5 separate regions of the Homo sapiens genome follow, and regions 2, 3, 4 and 5 are each linked to region 1. Evidence: fine-mapped expression QTL. A gene starts in region 1. Each other region holds a variant in brackets. All regions are shown on one strand. Distances are between the middles of the regions. Region 1 holds the start of EXOC2 (exocyst complex component 2). Region 2 overlaps EXOC2 (exocyst complex component 2). Region 3 overlaps EXOC2 (exocyst complex component 2). Region 4 overlaps EXOC2 (exocyst complex component 2). Region 5 overlaps EXOC2 (exocyst complex component 2).

The links. PIP is the estimated chance that this variant, and not a neighbour inherited with it, causes the effect.
Region 2: its variant is the best candidate, but not a certain one, in a credible set for the expression of EXOC2 in monocytes after LPS (Fairfax 2014, PIP 0.54).
Region 3: its variant is the best candidate, but not a certain one, in a credible set for the expression of EXOC2 in monocytes (Kim-Hellmuth 2017, PIP 0.90).
Region 4: its variant is the best candidate, but not a certain one, in a credible set for the expression of EXOC2 in whole blood (INTERVAL, PIP 0.69).
Region 5: its variant is the best candidate, but not a certain one, in a credible set for the expression of EXOC2 in sigmoid colon (GTEx, PIP 0.53).

What each region holds. Positions count from the first base shown.
Region 1 is chr6:690,961-695,080 of GRCh38, forward strand. It overlaps EXOC2 (exocyst complex component 2), which reads right to left and starts at 2,179. Exons shown (of 28, transcript NM_018303.6): 1 at 2,059-2,179. RefSeq lists enhancers at 1,506-2,392, 3,822-4,120 and silencers at 1,799-1,868, 1,879-1,938.
Region 2 is chr6:527,370-531,489 of GRCh38, forward strand. All of the region lies in intron 23 of EXOC2 (exocyst complex component 2), which reads right to left. Among named protein-coding and RNA genes, the nearest start is that of HUS1B, 130 kb to the right of the region's middle. The variant T/C (reference allele first, on the strand shown) is at 1,766.
Region 3 is chr6:483,797-487,901 of GRCh38, forward strand. EXOC2 (exocyst complex component 2) reads right to left here. Exons shown (of 28, transcript NM_018303.6): 28 at 1,358-2,968. The coding sequence ends at 2,875. Among named protein-coding and RNA genes, the nearest start is that of IRF4, 94 kb to the left of the region's middle. The variant C/T (reference allele first, on the strand shown) is at 1,790.
Region 4 is chr6:572,643-576,762 of GRCh38, forward strand. It overlaps EXOC2 (exocyst complex component 2), which reads right to left. Exons shown (of 28, transcript NM_018303.6): 12 at 4,115-4,120; 13 at 1-2. Among named protein-coding and RNA genes, the nearest start is that of HUS1B, 82 kb to the right of the region's middle. The variant G/A (reference allele first, on the strand shown) is at 1,811.
Region 5 is chr6:537,867-541,986 of GRCh38, forward strand. The region is part of intron 22 of EXOC2 (exocyst complex component 2); the gene reads right to left. Among named protein-coding and RNA genes, the nearest start is that of HUS1B, 120 kb to the right of the region's middle. The variant G/A (reference allele first, on the strand shown) is at 2,150.

The DNA.
Region 1 (4,120 bases):
CAGTGACCTAAAATTCATCCATTCAATAAACATTTAAGCACCTACTATGTGGCAGACGCTGGACTAGGAACCCAGGCTGGATTAAGATGCGTAAACTGGAGAATGAGTGGAAAAGTAACTGAGAGGACACCTCTGTAACCAGCACTTCCTGTATGGCCTAATCTTGCTGCTGCTTGACACTAGAAATATTAAAAGTTCTTTGCTAGAAGACTATTTTTTCAGTACCAACTTCATTTCCCATATGATTCTTACATAATGGGCTCCCAAGAACTTAGCAAGTTAATAACCATCTTTTAGAAAAGTAATACAGTTGACCCTTAAGCAACATGGGTTTGAATGAGACAGATCCACTTATACACGGATTTTTTCAACAAAAGTTGCACTGAGTGTGCCTGCATCTCCCACTCCCCTTTCACTTCCTCCATCTCTTCCATCTCTGCCATTCCTGAGAAAATCCCTCCTCTTCTTCCTCCTCCACAATCTACTCATGCAGACTATGGGGATAATAACCTTCATGATTCTCCACTTTCATTTAAAGAAGAGTAAATACATTTGTTGTGATTTTAACATTTTCCTCTCTCAGCTTACTTTAAGAATACAGTATATAATACGTATAACATACAAAATACATGTAAGTCAACTGTTTATGTATCAGTAAGGCTTCTGGTCAACAGTAGGCTATTAGTAAAGTCCTGGGAAAGTCAAAAGTTACATGGAAATTTTTGACTGCGTGGGCACCCCTAACCCCAGTGTTGTTCAAGGGTCAACTGTAGTTCAAAATGGCATTCAATACAGGAAATTAAATACTTGACAAGAAAAAAAGATCACTTTCTAAAACTTCCAAGAGTTGGTCCAAGTCACACTGGGGGAACTCTGCTTCTCTGCTTTAATTTATTAAGTTTCTACTTAGACAAACAAGTGAACATGTAAGTACTAAGCACACATCACCCTCTTTCTATTACTACTCTGGGAATCGCCAACTTTTAGCACAAAAAAATCATCTTTGAGAAGATTCTGGCTTTCAGTTGATTTGTCATTAAAGGAGTCAGTTACACAAAGCATGGGCCAGTACATACTAACATTCATAAACAAAACATTATTATGCATTAGAAGACAGATCCACATAAGCTCAGAAGTAACTTTTCAATATTGCATAGTGCACACAAAAAGATTTAATTAAAGTGTGGCTAACTTAGAAAAAATATTTTTTAAGTGTTCCTTGTAAGTTTACTCACAGATTCATAAAGGCATCAGACTTAAAATTTCTCAGACTTATTAGTATGTTGACCTTTGGCAGATTAAAAATAACTTACTTCCATTCAAAGACGAGTTCTTTCAAGAACTATTTCTCGGAATTACTAAAGTGTTTTCTTAACAATCTTGGGATACAGGGTTACGCATCACCAGGCTTCCAGGCTGCTGGTGTGCGGACCTGGAGCCGGCGCGCAAGGTCTCAATGGCAGCTACAACAGGACCTCAGGCTCTTTGCTCAAGCACTCTGAGCCGCCGCTCCCCTATCCGTAAAATGGGTCACACGGCAGCGTACATACACCCGCGCGAGGATCAAGTACGTGCACGCAAACGCTGACAACAGCGGCAGGCGCCTTTTAAGCGCTCAGGACAGCCAGAGCGGGATGCACGCCTAGGCAGACAGGTAACACCCGCCTCGCGTTCACTTTTCCGGAGAAATTCTCAAATCTCACGGAGTGGCAACTGCGCAAGGGCGAAGCGGCGCAGTCTGGGGCCAGCTCCAGCGGGCGGGGCCTGGAGTCAGCCCTCTGCAGCCCACGCCCCTCACCGGCGCAGGTGGGGACCGCGGGGGTGCGAACTGGCGGGGGTGGGCGCGGAGCCCAGCAGGCGGCTGACGGCGGGGATGGGGGCTGCGGGGCTGGGAACCGCGGGGGGTCGCGGGGCCCCGCAGGTGACCGACGGCGCCAGTGGGCGCGGCTGTCCCTTCACCGCTGAGGCCTGGACGGACGCCGCAGGCGGCCACCTCCGTGCAGCTGACGTCCATGTCCCGCTGGCCTTCGGCCAGGCCCTCCAGCCTCCCACACATACCTCCAGCCGTCCTGCCGCAGCTCACGGCCGGCACAGACAGGGCCCGGTAGGTCTCGCCGAAGACTCCGCGGCCGCCAGCCGCCGGCACCTCACTTCCGCCCGCCGCGAGCGCCGAGCGTGTAGATCCGCCTGGCAGTCGAGCGCCGAGTCCTCGATGGGCGGAGCCTTCAGGGGAGGGTAGAGGAGGGGAGGAGACCGGCGCGGGTGCTGGAGGTCAGCAGGGGCCGTGGGCGGTGGACGCTGGAATGCCTTGGGTTCCGAGGGACCCAGCTGCCTGAATGGACACGAGTAGGAGGTTTTTGCTGGGCGTCTTTGCGGTGGCGGGAAGCGGTGAGGGAGGGAAAGAAGGATACAAGCTCAAGGGGCAGGCCGGGTGCACCATCCATCCCCGTGCCCTCGGGTCATCTCAGGGAGACTGTGGGATGATAGTGCGTTTGTGGGCCACAGTTCACAACGATGGGCCCTGCATCGGGTCAGAGGACCCCTCCGGAACAGGGGGATGCACAAGGTCAAGAGAATGCATGGAATCAGAGGGCTGCACCAGGTCAGGGGGGCTGCACCGAGACCAGAGGAAGCATCAGGTCAGGAGGATGCACTGGAGTGTGCATCCCCAGGGGGCCACACTGGGTAAGGAGGATGCACCAGGTTAGGAGGCAGCACTGGGTCAGAAGGATGCACTGGAATCAGGGGACTGTACCAGGTTGGGGGGCGTGCCTCAGGTCAGGAGGAGGCACTGGGGTCCGGGGGCAACATTGAGTCAGGGGCAGCCCTAGGTCAGGAGGATGCATGGGGTCAGGGGGCTGCAGGGGTTTGAGGGCTGCACTGGGTCAGGGCGCCATACCAGGTCAGGGGATGCGCAGGATCGGGGGAGATGCCCGGGGTCGTGGGATGCTGGGGGTTGGGGGGATGCTCGGGGTCGGGGAGTTCTCGAGGTCGGGGGATACTCGGGGTCAGGGGGTTCTCAGGGTTGGGGGGATACTTAGGGTCAGGGGATGCTCTAGGTTGGGGGAAGCTCGGGTTCAGGGGCTATGGCCAGGGAGGAAGGACAATCAGGAAAGTGGGGGTAGCGGATTCTGGAAGCTAAATAGTTTCAGGAAGGAGGAATTGATAGCCAATGTTCAGAAGTACTGTGAGGCCAAGACTCCAGAGACAATTGAGTTTGGCATATGCCAGTCATTGGCATCCTTGACAAAAGCAGTTTCAAAGGAGTGTGGGGAAGCTACATCTCGTCAGAGTGGACTGTGAAAAGAATATTAAGTGAAGTGGAAAAAAGTAAGTTTCAACAACCTAGGTTGGCAGATTTAGCAATAAAAATACAAATACCCAGTAAAGTTTAATTTCAGATAAACAACAAGTAATTTGTAGTATAGATATATTTATCACTAAACTAATGTTGCATGGGATATACTTCTACTAAAACATTGTTTTGAGAGGTGACAGCGTGCTGGCAGCCCTCACAGCCCTCGCTCGCTCTGGGCACCTCCTCGGCCTTGGCACCCACTCTGGCTGTGCTTGAGGAGCCCTTCAGCCCACCGCTGCACTGTGGGAGCCCCTTTCTAGGCTGGCCAAGGCCGGAGCCGGCTCCCTCAGCTTGTGGGGAGGTGTGGAGGGAGAGGCGCTGGTGGGAACCCGGGCTGCGTGCGGCACTTGCGGGCCAGCGCGAGTTCTGGGTGGGCGTGGGCTCAGCGGGCCGGCACTCGGAGCGGCCAGCCAACCCGCCGGCCCTGGGCAGTGAGGGGCTTAGCACCTGGGCCAGCAGCTGCTGTGCTCAATTTCTCCCCGGGCCTTAGCTGCCTTCCCGCGGGGCAGGGCTGGGGACCTGCAGCCTGCAGTGCCTGAGCCAACCCCCCCCGCCATGGGCTTCCGTGCGCCCGAGCCTCCCCGACGAGCGCTGCCCCCTGCTTCACGGCCCCCAGTCCCATCGACCACCCAAGGGCTGAGGAGTGTGGGCGCATGGCTCGGGACTGGCAGGCGGCTCCACCTGCGGCCCCGGTCGGGATCCACTGGGTGAAGCCAGCTGGGTTCCTGAGTCTGGTGGGGACTTGGAGAACCTTTATGTCTA
Region 2 (4,120 bases), 160 kb before region 1:
TGCAAGATACATTCCAAAAGGCAGAGATCTTAAAATAAAATTCAACAAACATAGACTTGAGAAGAGCTGTGCTTCTGCCTCTGTCTCCATAATTAGACTTACATTTTCTTTCTCTTCAATTTGTTGGAATATGCTGCTTGGCACACTGCCTGGACAACACACTTACAAGTTTCGCTCACTGATGGACTGTGCACCCCAAGCCTGTGCTCTGGCACACCACTGACGGGCAGGAGGTTACCCTACTCTAGGTTATATGCATCATACATGGAAGCAACCAACTCTGCTGTTATTTTTAGAATGGTCCTAGACATACTCATGTCACAAATTATATAAAGTTTTCCCTTTCCCATTATAATTTCAATTACTATAATTAGTATAAGCACATTTGAATCAAAAATAAGTTCACTATTTACCTATAGAAAATGATTAAGTTTAGATTCACTTAGTAAATAACTTTAAATAATATACATTAATTTAAATTTTTATGACTTTTTGATAGAAAAAATAAAACCAGTATTTAACAGAAAACTTAAATAATACTTTTTTCTTATTTAATGTTTCAAAGACGTGAACTTCAATGTGTATTTGTAAGTAAAGACCAACAGTATTCTTATTTAAAATTTATAAAATTCAAATACTAAGAACTCTTAATAATTGCAGATAACAGAACAATTAAAATCTTAACAGCAGTTTTGTGACTCAGAACTAACTAGAATAATCTTTACTGACATATACACAAATAAAGAGGTGACAACAATTTAAATACCCAACGGTAAGATTTAAAAAAACATCGCTACGGCTTTAACGGATATCTCTTGTTGAATCATGAAATTAATCAACTGGATTTTTTTTTTTAATCACTACATACAGTATCGGAAACTAAATTTATTGGTAACTACAGCAATAAGTAATCAGTTACCTACATGATTTGCAAAATTCAGTTTCTGAAGAAGTAAACTCTGAAGATAATACTAAAGTTGTTAATTGAAATTATTTTGGAAGATTAATAGTCAAACTATTTTGGCTGCTCACTTTACACAAGGTCTCAACTTAAGTCAGCTTTAAACAAACTAAAAATCACTATATGACTATGCAAGGCTGAGGTTCAGTTAGTAATCATGAAGTCAAAACTACACAAAGAACAGAACTAAATAGAGTTTATAAAAGTGAAACGAGCACCGATGACTTCTACATGTTTTTGGAATCTGAGGAAGAGTAAATAAATTGCTGGTAGTATGGTGCCATGTGCCATTTGCTTATGAAAGAAAGTTTGTCAGGAAAAAAACAAAACCAATAAACGAAGCTATGTTAAAAAAAAAAGCCTCACCACTTAATGTCACACAGCCAGAAGAATCTTAATTTTGTAGTGAAGATTATCTGAGGTTACAGACTCTTATTAAGATCAACCTCAGGATTACATTTAGGCTCTGATCCTAATTCACAACCGAGGCTTGTCTAGTTCAATGTCATGGCTGGAAAATATGAAGGTCACAGAGACAGGATTCTGGGTACCTTAAATAAATCCAGTGAGGACTTTGAAATTCCAAGTGGTGGTAACTAGCTGGATGCAGAAGAACCCTAAGATAAATCCAGTGAGGACTTTGAAATTCCAAGTGGTGGTAACTAGCCGGATGCAGAAGAACCCTAAGATAAATCCAGTGAGGACTTTGAAATTCCAAGTGGTGGTAACTAGCCGGATGCAGAAGAACCCTAAGATCCCCGTTAGCCCGGCATCGCCTGCCTTTTACCCCCCCCCGCGCCCTGG[T/C]TACTGCTCACTCAAGTGCTGCCACACGATTCACAGCCTCGTGATAATGGCCAGCAGCCCCTGCACTTGAAGTCCTGTGACCTAACGCCGCCCTTCAGGGAATGGGCCTTCATAGATGTCTGTTTTCCGAAGACACCTTGGAGCGGGTGGATGGGAAAGACCTGCCTTTCACCTGACAGACATTCTCGACTGCCCCTGCCGGTGTTCGGCATACACTAAAGATGCCTCGCTGTTTGTTAACGGAGGCAGCAGGTCTGAGAGAGGGCTGGCAAAGAAAAGTCTTCTTCTGCATCAGGGGCAAATAAATCCTCTTTCTCGGTAACAATCGGAGATTTCAGTGACGACAGAGAAGAATCACTTTGTTGAGAGTGAAACTCGGTGGCCCATTCTAAATTTTTATAGTCATCACTGAAGCGCAGGAAACTCAGAGGGGCTGTGTCATGATTTTTTTCTATTCTCAAAGAAATATCACAAGTGATTTAATAGCCTTGAACATAACCAATTAAGATAAGCATGATTTCAGAGTGAACAGTTAACGTACTTACATGTGAATCACAGGAAAAGATATGAACTTTGACAAAATTCATTTAAACTATTACTGAACAATGTATTACTTTTTGCATGGTGATGCAAAGTAATACATTGTTCAGTAATAGTTTACATAACTAAACAGATAGAATTGCTGATGTGTTAGATGTGTGAACAGTTAATGTCGTTACATGCTAATCACAGGGGAAGATACGAACTTTAACAAAATTCATTTTAACTATTACCGAAAAATGTATTACTTTTTGCATGGTGCAAGGTAATACATTGTTCGGTAAGAGTTTAAATAGTTAAACAGACAGACGTGCTGATGTGTTAGATACACTTGACAGTCGCATTTTAATTGAAACGCAGCTGCTCAAATTTAGCAAGTCTATGCAACTACCATATGAGAATTCACAAAGGACAAGAAAATGAGCACTCTCACTCATTCCCATTCAGCAAATATGAATATCCACCGTGTACTGTTTATTAAAAAGCAAATCAGAAGAACAGTGGAAGCTAGAACACTGTATAATGTACTTTCCTACTGAGAAAATTTTGAGAAAAATCAGGCAAAAGCATATGGCAAACACTTAGAAGAGAAGGAGCAACTGGCACATTTAGAGAGATGGTATATTATTATAGAAAATGCCAATCTTCATTTACTCCACAAACACACACACAGCATCAGCTGAGTGTCACAGACTGCACTATGCTAAAAACTCTGAGAACAAGACACCCAAATGACGGCCTTGTGCTGAGACTGTCCAGCAAGGAGCTAGATAACGACAAAACATTTCCCGCGGGCACAGAGAGTGGCAAGAGCTGCTCTGGGAGCATCACGAATGGAGGTAGGCCAATGCGACCTGGAGACATGCAGGGGATGGGCTGGGTGAGCTCCCAGAGGACACAGGGCCCGGAAGGGCAGGAGAGGTTAGGAGAGGGGCAGAGGTGAGAGGGACTAGGCACAGGGTTCACAGTGCACGAAGCACCCAGCCTGCCTGCTGCCTGGGGGAGCCCGTGGAGAGGGAAGTAACTCATAGCAAGCACAGGGAGTACTGCTGGCCCTCTGCATCTGTGGCCTCTGCATCTGTGGCCTCCACAACAGTGGCTTCTGCATCTGTGGATTCAACCAACCATGAATGGAAAATATTCCGGGGTGGGGGACCCAGATGGCTGCATCTGTACTGAGCATATACAAACTTTCTTCCTTGTCATGACTCCCTAAATGATACAGTTTAACAACTATTCACAAAGCACGGGCATTGTATTAGGTGTTATAAGTAATCTAGAAATGATTTAAAGCATACAGGAGGATGTGCATAGGTTACATGCGAATATGACACCATTTCACACTGGGAACTTGAGCATCCGTGGAATCTGGTACCTGTGGGGATGCTACCTTGTCTGAGAAGTCTGGGGTTAGCCTCAGGGAGAATGAGCCTCCTCGAAGGTTTTTCAGCAGGGGATTGACAGGATCCAATTTATATTTTAGAAGGATGAGCTTTTCAAAAAGGCAGAGGTTGAGTCCAGCTGGAGAGGGGCTGTGAGGTGGAGCATTGGGGCAGTGGGCAGAGTGCCAGGGCAGAGGTGGGCACAGCACAGCTTCCCCGGTTTTACTATCATGAGAAGATGTTGTAAGAATTTTAAGTAAGATACTGATAGAACCTGCCTTAAACTTTAAAAGGATGTACTTTGAGGGTATGAACTGAATGTGGTTTGGGCACAGAAAGTGTGTGCACAGAAAAGTGTGTGCACAGAAAAGCACATGAGGAATAAGGGCTGGCATGACTGCCATGACTGTGAGCTCAGGAAATTCAATAACTG
Region 3 (4,105 bases), 210 kb before region 1:
TATTAAATATATCTTTCAGAGCAGTTCACAGATCTATATGAAAATCTTTGCAACAGAACCAACAGATAAATGTTCAGTGACAAAAATGTATGCAAGTTTAGTCTATGCATAATTATTTTATGAATATTACATAAAATATATTTGACTTTTAGAAACCTAATCTTGATTTAAAAACTAGTTAAAATTTGTAACTTTTCTGAAAACATTACACAACACGCTTATGAAACTAACAGAATATCCCATAGCACGTGATCAAAACAGAAATACACACCACCACCTTGTACCAAATCCAGAATAAAAATATAATCTCTTCTATTTCTTCCCTTTAAAAAAATCTACATGCAAAGATGACAAGAGACAGGAGAATGAGTCAGTGTGCTCAGCCTAAGGCAATGATGCTTGTTTTGCAATGCCCAAATCATTTCTAGAATATGCTCTTTCATGGTACACTGATAAAGAAAGTCTTAGTAAAAAACCAAGTGATTTCTAATAGCTCTTTCCCATTCAAGTGAGGCCAGCTCAGCTAACTCACATGAAGCCATGCTGTGACCCACAAAGAACATGGGTGTGCTGGAAATGAAATGCCACTGGAGCACTGAAGTACCTTGAACCTCCCTAATTTGTTTTCTCAGCTGCCTCGTTAACTTGCTCCAGGTCCTGGTTTCTCTCTCGGCTTTCATCTAACTTATTTCATATTCATCTCCTCTTACCCACTAAACCAGGGTTCTGTAACTCAAGTAGCTCTTGAAATCCCCCTTTCTTCCAAGAAGTCCCCCCTGACTTGTTGGAATAGTAGTCCTTGAACTCCCTCACTTGGGTATGGGGTTTTTAGGCCTTTACCTTCCACTCTGAGCCATAAAAGCACTACCGGTTTCCGTGTTGCTACTGTTTATTAGCCTCTGGAATTGATGAACTTTCTCTGAGCTGTGACCCAGGTGGATGGATGTCAGAAAGCATATTCCGCTGGAAGGAAGAGCTGAGCAGTAGTGAAGTCAAGGACATACAGAGCCAGAGTGTGAACATGAGTCCTGCTACTTACTGCCTTGCAGTCTTACGGAAGTCACCAACCTCTCTCTAAGCCCTGATTCCTTCCTCTGCTAAATGGACGTGGCGGTAAGCTAGCCCACATGTATCATAAGGCTGTTGTGAGGATTCAACGAGGCACTTCATGGTGTGCCTCGCACATGGTAAGTCCCCAGCAAACAGAATTAGCAGGACCTGACAGATGGTTTCTGACAATGTGTTTACCAATACAGGGTTAACCAGAATGTAAGTATTTTGGGTGTTAACAGTAGAAATATGAAAATGTTGAAATAAAGACACTTAGGGAAAAATGTCAAGTAAATTACAACTTACATTAAAGGCAGATTCTTTATTGGCTGAATGTGCTGTAGTAGATATTTAAAATATCACAAACATTCATGATTGCAGTTTTTAAACTTAGCTCACAGTTGAGTTAGATACAACAGTTAACATACTTAGGAAAGACAATTCTTAACAGCTTTATCAAGCACATTTGTGAAAGATTAAACTTTCATTTCCAGTTACCATGATGTCCCCCCATACACCAAATGAACCAACACATTTATTTATTTTAAATAATGGAAACTGTACATGGCTACACTGTGCTCTAAAATTACTTGCATTAATGAGGACATTAATTTTAGCATTTAAAAAAAGAGATTTAAAAATAACCATAGAAAAACTTGAAAACCCTGACAAGCCGACTACAAAGAGAATTCCTCTCTGAAAATTTTCAGATGCGACGGTATGAGGGAGTTGGGTGGGC[C/T]GCTGACTCTGAGAGAAGTCCCGGTGACCTGAACCTATTCCAGTGAAGCCAGTCAGCAGTGAATGTGGGGCAAGTGCATGCGGCTGGTCTACAGCTCCCATTGCCTGGTGACCAAGGAGCATCCTGAAGTTTCAGAGAAGAGACTGTGTGACAGCAGCATTGTTCCAGCTACTGAGCAAGATCCTTCAGCAGGTAAGAAGTGGCAGAGACAGTCACCTGCTGAAGGAGCGGGCAGGGAGTTGGCCGTCCACGCGGAGCCTGGCCTTTCCGTTAGGGGACCCTGAAGTCTGCGACCGCCCCGCCAACACCTCAGAGTGTAACACAGTGCCCGTTACACATTCACACTCCATCACAGATAACACACAGGGCCTCAGGGACTGCAACACGTGCATGTGTAGTGACGCACGACAAATTAAGAGTGAGTGAGAATGAAAGCTCATGCTTAGCCCTGTGAAAAATAAAAATCAGATAGCAAAACGCAAAGTTAAATCACAGACACCTGGACCACAAATAATCTACCCCAGTTGTAATATGTATTTTAATGGAGACCATAAATTTTTCCAAAAACCCGCTTGAATTAGAAAACTTAAGGCCATTTATATGAAATGAGGGTTTTAAGCACAGCTGTACAGTTTAGGACAGTAAGAGCTCCAAAGATGTCTACATAGCTTTCCAAATCTCGTATCAGTCAGTCTCTCCGTGTGTCGTGGGAGCTGCCTGCGCTTCCGTGAACGGGACACTGAGAAATGCTTCAATATGTGCCACGCCATTCCAGAAAACTCCCTGCAGAAGCAGCTCTTCCTGCAGCACTCAACCTTCTGCTGAGATGCAAAATATATTTTAAAATGTATTTTAAAGTCATACAGGATCTGATCTAGTAAGAATGGCAAAACAAATACTTCCTGGGCATTTCAAATGAGGTCATTTTGGTTGAAATGTATACCAACAATTTTCGAAGTCAGAGGAAGAAAAAAGAGAAAAATGGCAAACCCAATGTTTAATACACCAAATACCTTTAGGGTACTTAGAGAGTGAACAGTCTTATTACGTGTTATTTTCCTGGACTTCTTTTATGTGGCAGATATTTATGTTTTCATCATGGTTGAAGAAGCTGCTTGGAAACAGGTGAGCTGCAAGTGCATGCTACTCTTGAACTTGTTCAGGAGCTCTTCCAGTAACCTGCAGGACGGAGACACTTGTTTTACAGCCCGACAGATGGGGCGGCCTAGCAACGCAAGAAAACACCAGGGGAGCCAGTGCCCGGCTCTGCCTGGGCTTGCTGTGTGGAGAAGGCAGCTGAAAAGTTCTACCTATGGATCCTTAACTCAGCAAAAGAAACACATCAAAGAAGTTGATCAAATAGGATATACTGATAACGTATTTATGTTTGTACAGAAACATCTCCTTCCTATCCCCTCCCAAGATTAGATTCCTCCCTAATACAGACTGATGTTTGGGCCTATTCTTTTTTAGAAATTCAACTCTAAAATAATTTACACACCTTCAAATTCACTTTTTGTTAGATGGTTCTATGAACGCTGGCAAAGCCATACCGGAGTGTAACAGGCTACAGCACGTGGCATGGCTGCACCCTTTCCCCTGCTGCCCCTCTAGTCAGCCTCTTCCCTAACCCCATCTCCCAGCAGCCACTGCTGACTTTCCCTTCCTCTCATTTTGTATTAACAGGTATTAGAGAGTGGGGAGCGAAAGCAGTGAGTTAACCACCAGGGCAAGCAGGGTTAGGGGCTAATTCCACTAGGCAAATCGCTTTGCTGCCTGATATCGCAATCTGTTTCCCCAACTGATGTGATACAGTCATCTAATTTTTTTTCTTTTTTTCAGATGGAGTTTTGCTCTGTCGCCCAGGCTGGAGTGCAGTGGCGCGATTTCGGCTCACTGCAACCTCCACCTCCCGGATTCAAGCAATTCTCCTGCCTCAGCCTCCTGAGTAGCTGAAACTACAGGTGCCCGCCACCACACCCGGCTAATTTTTGTATTTTTAGTAGAGACGGGGTTTTACCATGTTGGCCAGGATGGTCTTGATTTCCTGAAGTCGTGATCCGCCCACCTCAGCCTCCCAAAGTGCTGGGATTACAGGCATGAGCCACTGCGCCCGGCCCAAGTCATCTAATTTTTAAAGCTAGGAAGGATCTTAGAGTTTTCCTGGTTTGGATGCAGCAACCAAGAACTGGGTTTAACAGTACTGAGGTCAAGAGATTATTTCACGGTTTAACAATGTTCAATATTAGAATGCTATCCCCACAGCAAATCTAAAATATAGTCCTGACCTGGGGCCATTTCAGGGTGTGTATTGTT
Region 4 (4,120 bases), 120 kb before region 1:
CGCTAAGGGGGAAAAGAATAAAATACTATGATTGTACTTCTGAATCAAGAAAACACCTTTGAGCATATTGGCGCACCCCCCTCCACTCCCGCAAAACTCCAACATGCACTAGGAATAGCCTGAGTCTGCGTGGACGCTCGCGGCCCACCTGGCTGACACCGGCAGCGGTACGCTCGTCACCAGACACCCCCGCATTTCTCCTTGCCCTCTGGCAAGGAAGAGCCCCTCTCCCTCATGGCTGACCAGCAAGCCAGGGCAAGGGACCAGGTGGCCACAGCCTCAGTACTGGGAGGGCTACCGAGAGGAGGTGGCTTTGACTTATCAGCCTTGTCCTCTGGATAGTAAACGTCTCTTCAAAAAGTCCCGCCTTCTAACAGCAAAGGCAGGGGCTGCTGTGCAGCCAGTTGTGAAATTGCAGCTGATCAGCCTGTGAGAAATGCCATCATACACCCTGGGAAGTGAGAATGCAGGAAGGAATCCAGTTATCACAAGGAAACATTCTAGTGCAATCACATACTAAATAACCCCACCTAAAATAAAGAAATTTAAGAAAAACTAGAAACGTTGAAACCTCTTTGGCTATACATCATTTAACATAGCTATTGCTGTAACTGGGAAATAAGGGCTTAGACTTCTTGTGGGAAGAACAGGTTCATGGGAATAAAGCAAGTGTAGAAATTCAGGACCCACTCACCATGTCCTCTGTCTCCCTTCTTTCTTTTCACTCCCAGGGCCATGCCTTCGCCCTGCTGCCTCCCACCTGCCTCCCGCCCCGCACTCCACTCGGTGGCCATGGCAGGGGCACTGCAGAGTCCACCCCGTCCAGTCCTCAGCACAATGACGCCGCGGATCAGGCTCTAACTCCTACTCAGCAACTTCAGGGGCAGGTGGACTCCCATGAGAACGTTTATTCCCTGGGCCAGGCTAATTGCTAGCTTCCTTTCCAAATACCCCCAAGCAAAAGGATTTGCTGTTGTTAGTCCAGTGAAGGAAGGGCAAATTTTATAAACTGTATTAATAAAATTTCTTAATTTTATTAAGAAATTTTATTAATAAAATTGTATTAATAATTTATTAATGATTTAATAATTTAAATAGTTATTTGATCAGGTAATACATGGTTAGAAAATGACACCTGAAAGGTACACAGTGAAAAGTCTACCTCCTGCCCCTCCACTCCCAAGTGCCTAGTTCCCAGCCGGAAGAAACCACTGTCACTAGTTATTGTGACTCTTTCTGAAATATTTTTTATATACACAAGCAAGTATAAATGTGTTTTTCTCCCTCCCAACTGTTCTTTACACGTTTTTGGTTTTTACACAAACGAAAGGCCAAACACACTCTTTTGAAGCTTGGCTTCTTCCATTTAGCGATGGATCCTGGAGTTCTTCTGTATTCAAACGTAAGGCAAAGGCTTCCTCTTTTTCTCCCCACAGTTATACTGCCTTTCACATTTTTGACGTATCGTAATTTAACAAGTTCCCTTCCAATGGACAAGACTGTCTTCGGTCTTTTGCAATTAAAATGAATGTTTCAGCCAGTAACTGTATACCTATATCATTTAGCACATGCTCAAGTGAAAGCATAGAAAACGTCCAGAACAAGAATTGCTGGGACAAAGAGCACCTGTGGTTGTAATTTTGATAGATATTATTGAACTGCCCTCTAAAGGAAGTATGCCCTCATACTTCCACCGGTGACACGTGCAAGTAGTGGCCTCATCAATGAACAAACAAACATAGAAAACCCAAAACAAAACGATAAACACTCAGAGTTTTTGCCAACCTCGTATCTCATTGTAGTGTTATGC[G/A]ACCTTTCTTCTTACTATTGTGGGGTTGAGTGTCTACTCACACGTGTAAGAACCACTGACACGTCCTCTGTGTAGGCTATAGAGCCTCTTTATTTATTAGGTATATTAGCCCTTTGTCTATGCTAGGAGTTGCAGGAAAAAGTTTTAAACTCATTTTCACAGGTGTGAAAGGAACGGTTCTTTACTTAAGGGCACACTGTAAACTTTTATTTTTCATTCAGCTAATATTTATTGAGGATTAACCGTGTGCTTATCATGTGGCTCCACCCAAGATCAAAACTCACTCTGAATGCTGAACAAGGCAGGCTCTGCCTTCACAGCTTAGAATCTAACAGAACAGTCAATTAACCAATTGAATACACCATGATGGTAATCTGAGGTGAGTGGGTTTCATCTGGAGACAGCAGTTACAGACTCCTCTCCCCAACAGTAGTTGGTAATGCCTGTTTTCCAGATGGCAGGTGGCGTGCCACAGGGCGAGGCCATGGCCAGCTGCGTCAAGGGTCCAATGACAAGGTGAAAAACAGGACAAGAAAATCTAAAAATGGAAGCACTGAAAGATTTGCCTTTGATCGATTTGGATGTTTTGTCCCCACCAAATCTCATGTTGAAATGTGATCCCCAATGTTGCAGGAGGGCCATGGGGGCGGGCCCCTCGTGAATGGCTTGGTGTCCTTGCAATAATGAGTGAGTTCTTGCTCTATGAGTTCACACAAGATCTAGTTGTTTCACCCATTGCCCGTGTGCCCCGAGAACACTCTTGTCTCTAATCCTAATGGAACACCATTTACATTTCTATTACATTAGGATTAGAGACGAGTTGTTTAGAAATAATTCCAAGAACAGTTCTTATATTTTGTTTTCACACTGAAAATCAGTGATATTTGCTTCAGCCTCAAAGAACATGTTTATGTAAATTAAGTGAGCACCAGCAGTGAGCTGCACCTTTTTTCCCTAAATGGGAAATGGGTTAAAAGAGCCTGGCATCTCCATCCTCTCCCTCACTCCCTCTCCATCCTCTCCCTCGCTCCCTCTCCATCCTCTCCCTCGCTCCCTCTCCATCCTCTCCCTCGCTCCATCTCCTGCCATGCGACATGCTGGCTCCCCTTTTGCCTTCTGCCATGACTGGAAGCTTCCTGAGGCCTCCCAGTAGCAGATGCCGGCGCAATGCTTCCTGTACAGCCTGCAGAACTGTGAGCCAATAAACCTCTTTTCTTTATAAACTACCCAGCCTCAGTGTTCCTTTATAGCAACACAAACAGACTAACACAGCTTAATATGGCAGCAAATGGATTCTTACATGGTATCTTTCCCAAGAATAATGTTTCAAAAGATCTCAGCTCCTCTGTGCAATTACATTGAACATTATATAATGTTAGCTGCTGTCCCACAGAATGTAGGAGCAAACGGTTCTGATCTAACATTGTTTGTTCTAATGTTTGGTGAGCTGGGAGAGGAATGAGAATCGGACAAGAAGAAGGAATACCAACAGTTATGGAAGCCTTTCATTTAGTACAAATGAATCATCTAATTTTAAGGTGCTCTTATGATGAACATTCATTTATATTAATAAAACCTTCGAAAAATTCCCTACTGCAATGCTTGTTAAGAATAATATAAGACATTTTAAAACAACTGTACAGGTATCTGAATTTAATACAATGTAAGGTATTTCTATTAGTCTATTTGGGTTTCTTATATCTGTTATTGAGATCACAAATGGCTCCTGACTAGTGGCATCTAATTTGGTGCAAGAATGCCTGATAGTCGATCATGTTGTATCTCAAATAGGAAAATGGTAAATATCCACTCCAGAAAGTTCAGAAATGCAACATACTTAAAATTTTAGATGCTTCATCTTAGGAAAAATTATTAGCAAGTATTTTATGGTTAATTAACAGCCAATCCCTCTTTCCAGACCAAAGTTTAAATTTCATCAAAAAAGGTATACTGATACTACTTTTATCGCAAATTCCATCTTAATGAAGTTCTCACAGAATTTTTTTCTGTGGCACTTTAAAAAAATTCAACCACAGAAAAAGTAAAACTAGACTTGAACTAAATATGTTTAATAAGCACTGACCTGCACCCAATGACTTAAAAATCAAATAGCATTCCTTTAAATGTAATATATATTTTAATTATTAAATTACTGGTAGTTACTGTAACAAGCAAAAGCGATGATGGCTGATAATACTTAGCACCAGTATCAACACAAATTGGGGAATTTTCCAAGAGAAGAATGTTTGAAATTACACGAGTACAAATTTAAAAGACCCAGTGGCAGTGGAGGGAGATACTTACTGTCGT
Region 5 (4,120 bases), 150 kb before region 1:
GGGACAGGCAAAATGATTCTCTGCAGATAGCAGCTGGAACGTTGCTGAGAAGGGAGCCTACTCAAACAGGGCACAAGGGAAGGTTTTGTATTTTCATCTGGTGGTGGATGCTGGAACGTGTGCATATGTAAAAAGCCATCAATCCATAAGCTTAAGATTTGTGTCTTTTACTGTAGGTAAATTACACCTCATTTTTTAAAAAAAGAAGGGAAAAGAGGAGTTGAAAATAAATAGATGTGCAAACAGTTAATAGGCAAATGCTACAAAAAGAGAGTAGAATGGCAGTATTAATGTGTGATGAGGCAGGATCAATGTCAGGAGTACACAGCTCATACTTTTTGTTGTAAGGATTTAAACAGATAATTCAGGAAACTTGCATAGCACACTGAAAGCAAATACATAATAAATGCTAGCAGCTATTTCTATTAACTCAACAGCCTCATTTTCACTAACACCCTGTTCACACTGGCTGCTGAACATAGAAAACTGGGTCTGCTTGATTCCTGCTCAAAAAGCAAGGGTCAGATCCATCTACCATTAATCGCTATCTGAGAGTGAGGAAGAAAGATTAACTTTAAAAACATCCTGACACTAAGGAAATCAGTCTTATAAAGTGATGTGTTTAAGGAATGCAGTGGTTAAACAGAGACGGAGCGCTAAAGGGTCACTGATGGGGGTGAGAAAGGCAGCAGAGTAGACATGCCTGAGGGTCCAGTGGCCTTTTAGGGCAGGTGTCTCTAACAAAAACACAGTGCCTCCTTTAAAAAAGATAACAATTTAATTGTGTACAGACAGTCCCAACTTATGAGAGTTCAACTCATGATTTTCCCACTTTACCAGGGTGTAAAAGCAATGCGCATTCAGTATGTTCCCTGGCTTATGATGTGCTACGTCAGGTTAAACCCACTGTAAGTAGAAAATATCTGGCCGGGCACAGTGGCTCACGCCTATAATCCTAGCACGCTGGGAGGCTGAGGCGGGTGGATCACGGGGTCAGGAGTTCAAGACCAGCCTGGCCAAGATGGTGAAACCCTGTCTCTACTAAAAATACGAAAATTAGCCGGCTGTGGTGACAGGTGCCTGTAATCCCAGCTACTAGGGAGGTTGAGGCAGGAATTGCTTGAACCCGGGAGGCGGAGGTTGCAGTGAGCCAAGATCACACCACTGCACTACAGCCTGGGTGACAGAGCAAGACTCTGTCTGAAGAAAAAAAAAAAAAAGAAAATATCATAAGTAGAAAATGCGCTTACGATATTTTCAATTTTGGAAGGGTTTATCTGGAGGTAGCCCCATCATAAGTTCAGGAATATCTGTATTCAGAAATAGACTTACTCACTGAATTCGTACATATTAGCACTGAGGAGGGTCTTTCGAAGCATTAAAAAACTGTGGGTAATAACTTACAGAAGTAAAAGGCGTATGCTGGAGGCAGAATTCTGGTGTAATGGACAATACTCCCAATAAGCCAGCGCCCTGCCACCTTAGCAGCAATCATGTATATACTCAACAACATTTCCATCTCACGCACCGGCACTGATGCCAGCCAGTGCTCCCAATAAGCCACCGCCCTGCCTTTCTTAGCAGCAATCACGTACACTCAACAACATTTCCATCTCACGCACCAGGCACTGATGCCAGCCAGTGCTCCCAATGGACAGTCCTGGAGAAGAGATGCCTAAGTCGATTGTCAAATTTCTCTAACTTCTTTACTGTTGTCTTCAACACAGTCACAATGGTTTAAAAGATAACATCATTATTTTGATGTATTTTAATGTTTCCAATTTAAAATTTCCAATTTGTGATTTTAAAAACTTTTTGATAATAATGTTTTTTAAAAATTATGCTTCCAAGAAAGAAAATAAACAACAAACAATTATTTTCATTCCAATTTGGCCATCTGTATAGAAATAAGGTCATCAAACTATCATTAGAACATCTATCCAAGTGACTCTGGATAACTAGGTTCAGACAAATTAATTTTTTTTAGCTCTTTTCAAATGGATGGCAGGACAGGTGGCAAACTGACATTCCTTTATATTACTGAACCACAACTTGTCAAATGGGGGCAAAATAAATGCCAAGTAAATAACTAATTTTAAAAAACCTCTTAATTCCTAGGAGAAGTATTAACACAAAAAAGAAAACTACA[G/A]ATGAAACAGGATATACTGTCACCTGAAACAGAAGGACAGCCTGTGTCTCCAGGACTTGTTAGCGAGGGCTTCCAAGCCACACATGCGCACACCATGCCCAGCTAATTTTTTTATTTTTAGTAGAGATGGGGTTTCACCATGTTGGCCAGGCTCGTCTTGAACTCCTCACCTTAGGTGATCCACCCACCTCAGCCTCCCAGAGTGCAGGGATTACAGGCAGGAGCCACCACACCCAGCCAGGAATTTTTAATAATCAAGTTAGTCACCTCACATCCTATATATTAGGCTTCAATTGTTTGCTCCACTGTTCTCAATAGGATAATCTTATCCTTGACGATTTGATTTTCTATCTATACAGAATAATCGGAAAGACACTGGAAAGAACTTTACTGCTACCACTATCTCCTTCCCTGATTTCTGAATTATACCATTCCAGAGTAAGTTAATAATTTCCCCTTACTTAGTAACAAAAAACAAAGTTTCTGGAGAAGAAACACAACTGAAATAACATTTCAATACACAGTAAATTTCAGCAAGATTAGACACAACTGAAGAAACAAGGAACAAAAAGAGAGAGCTGAGGAGATTACCCCAATCAGTACAGACAATTAAAGATGAGGAGAATAAAAAAGAAAAAAATTAAGAGATGTGAAGAATAGAGTGAGAAGGTCTAACATACACCCAATAGGAGATCTTAAAGGACAGAAAAGTTTGAATGGAGAAGAAAAAATATTTGAAGAGATAATGGCTTAGAACTTTCCAGAATTGATTAAAGACATCAACCAGAGCCAAGGGAACAAACAGGCCAAAAAACATAATAATACCAAGACACATAATAAAAATACAGAACAGAAGAGGCAAATAAAGTATCTAAAAAGGAGCCAAGGAAAAACCTTACTACATTTTTCTCAGTAATCAAGAGATCAAAGTCCAAACCAAACAAACAAAAGGACTGAACAACATAATCCACAAACCCGATGTAATAGACATCTGTGGAATGTGGTATCCAAAACGTAAGGACACGATCTTTTCAACCGAGGTAGGGTTTCAGAAAACTGTCCACATATGAGCTTACAAAGCAAGCCTCAGCAAACCTAAAAACATGATATTCTCTGACCTCAGAACAATGATGTTAGAAATCTCTAACAAAGAGAAAACTAATTCCAACTGCTCCTCTGCTCCCTTAGCTTGGAAATTTAAAATCATACTTCTAGCCAAGACTAAAATAGAATATTAAAATTCAAAACTAAAAAAAATGAAGAATAACTAAAATACCACTTGCGAAAACATGGGAAACACAGCTAAAAAGACACTTAGAGGGAAATTCACAGCCTTAAATGTTCATATTAAAAGACAGAAAGGTTTAGAATTAATGAACTATGTAAATAAACAAGATTAGAGTCCAAATTACTGCAAGAGAAAGCAAGGATATAACGAGAGAGCACTACTAAAGTCAAAAGTTATTCTCTGAAAAAGACTCTGGCAAGAAACAAAGAATAAAAATACAAACAAGCGATAGTAAGTACAAAAAATGACCATATCGCAGCTGAGGTTGAAGGAATAAAAATACAAACAAGCGATAGTAAGTACAAATAAGGACCACATCGCAGCTGAGGTTGAAGTAATAAAACTGTTATAAAACAATTTTACGCCAACAGATTTGAAAATTTAAGCAAAATGGGCAAAGTCCTAGAAAAATATAGATGACTACGATTAACATGAAGAAATAAAAAGCTGGATGGTTCTATAACCATTAAAGAAATTGGGCCAGTCATTAGCAATCATCTCACAAAGAAAATCTGGGCATACGGAAAATACCACTACCAGAGCGTTTTTCTAAATATTCAAAGAATAAATAATTCCAATCTTATGCAAACTCTTTCAAAGAAGAAAAAGGAATATATTCTTTAATTCATGTTACAAACGAGCATGACCTACATGCTACAACATGGATACATCTCAAAATAATA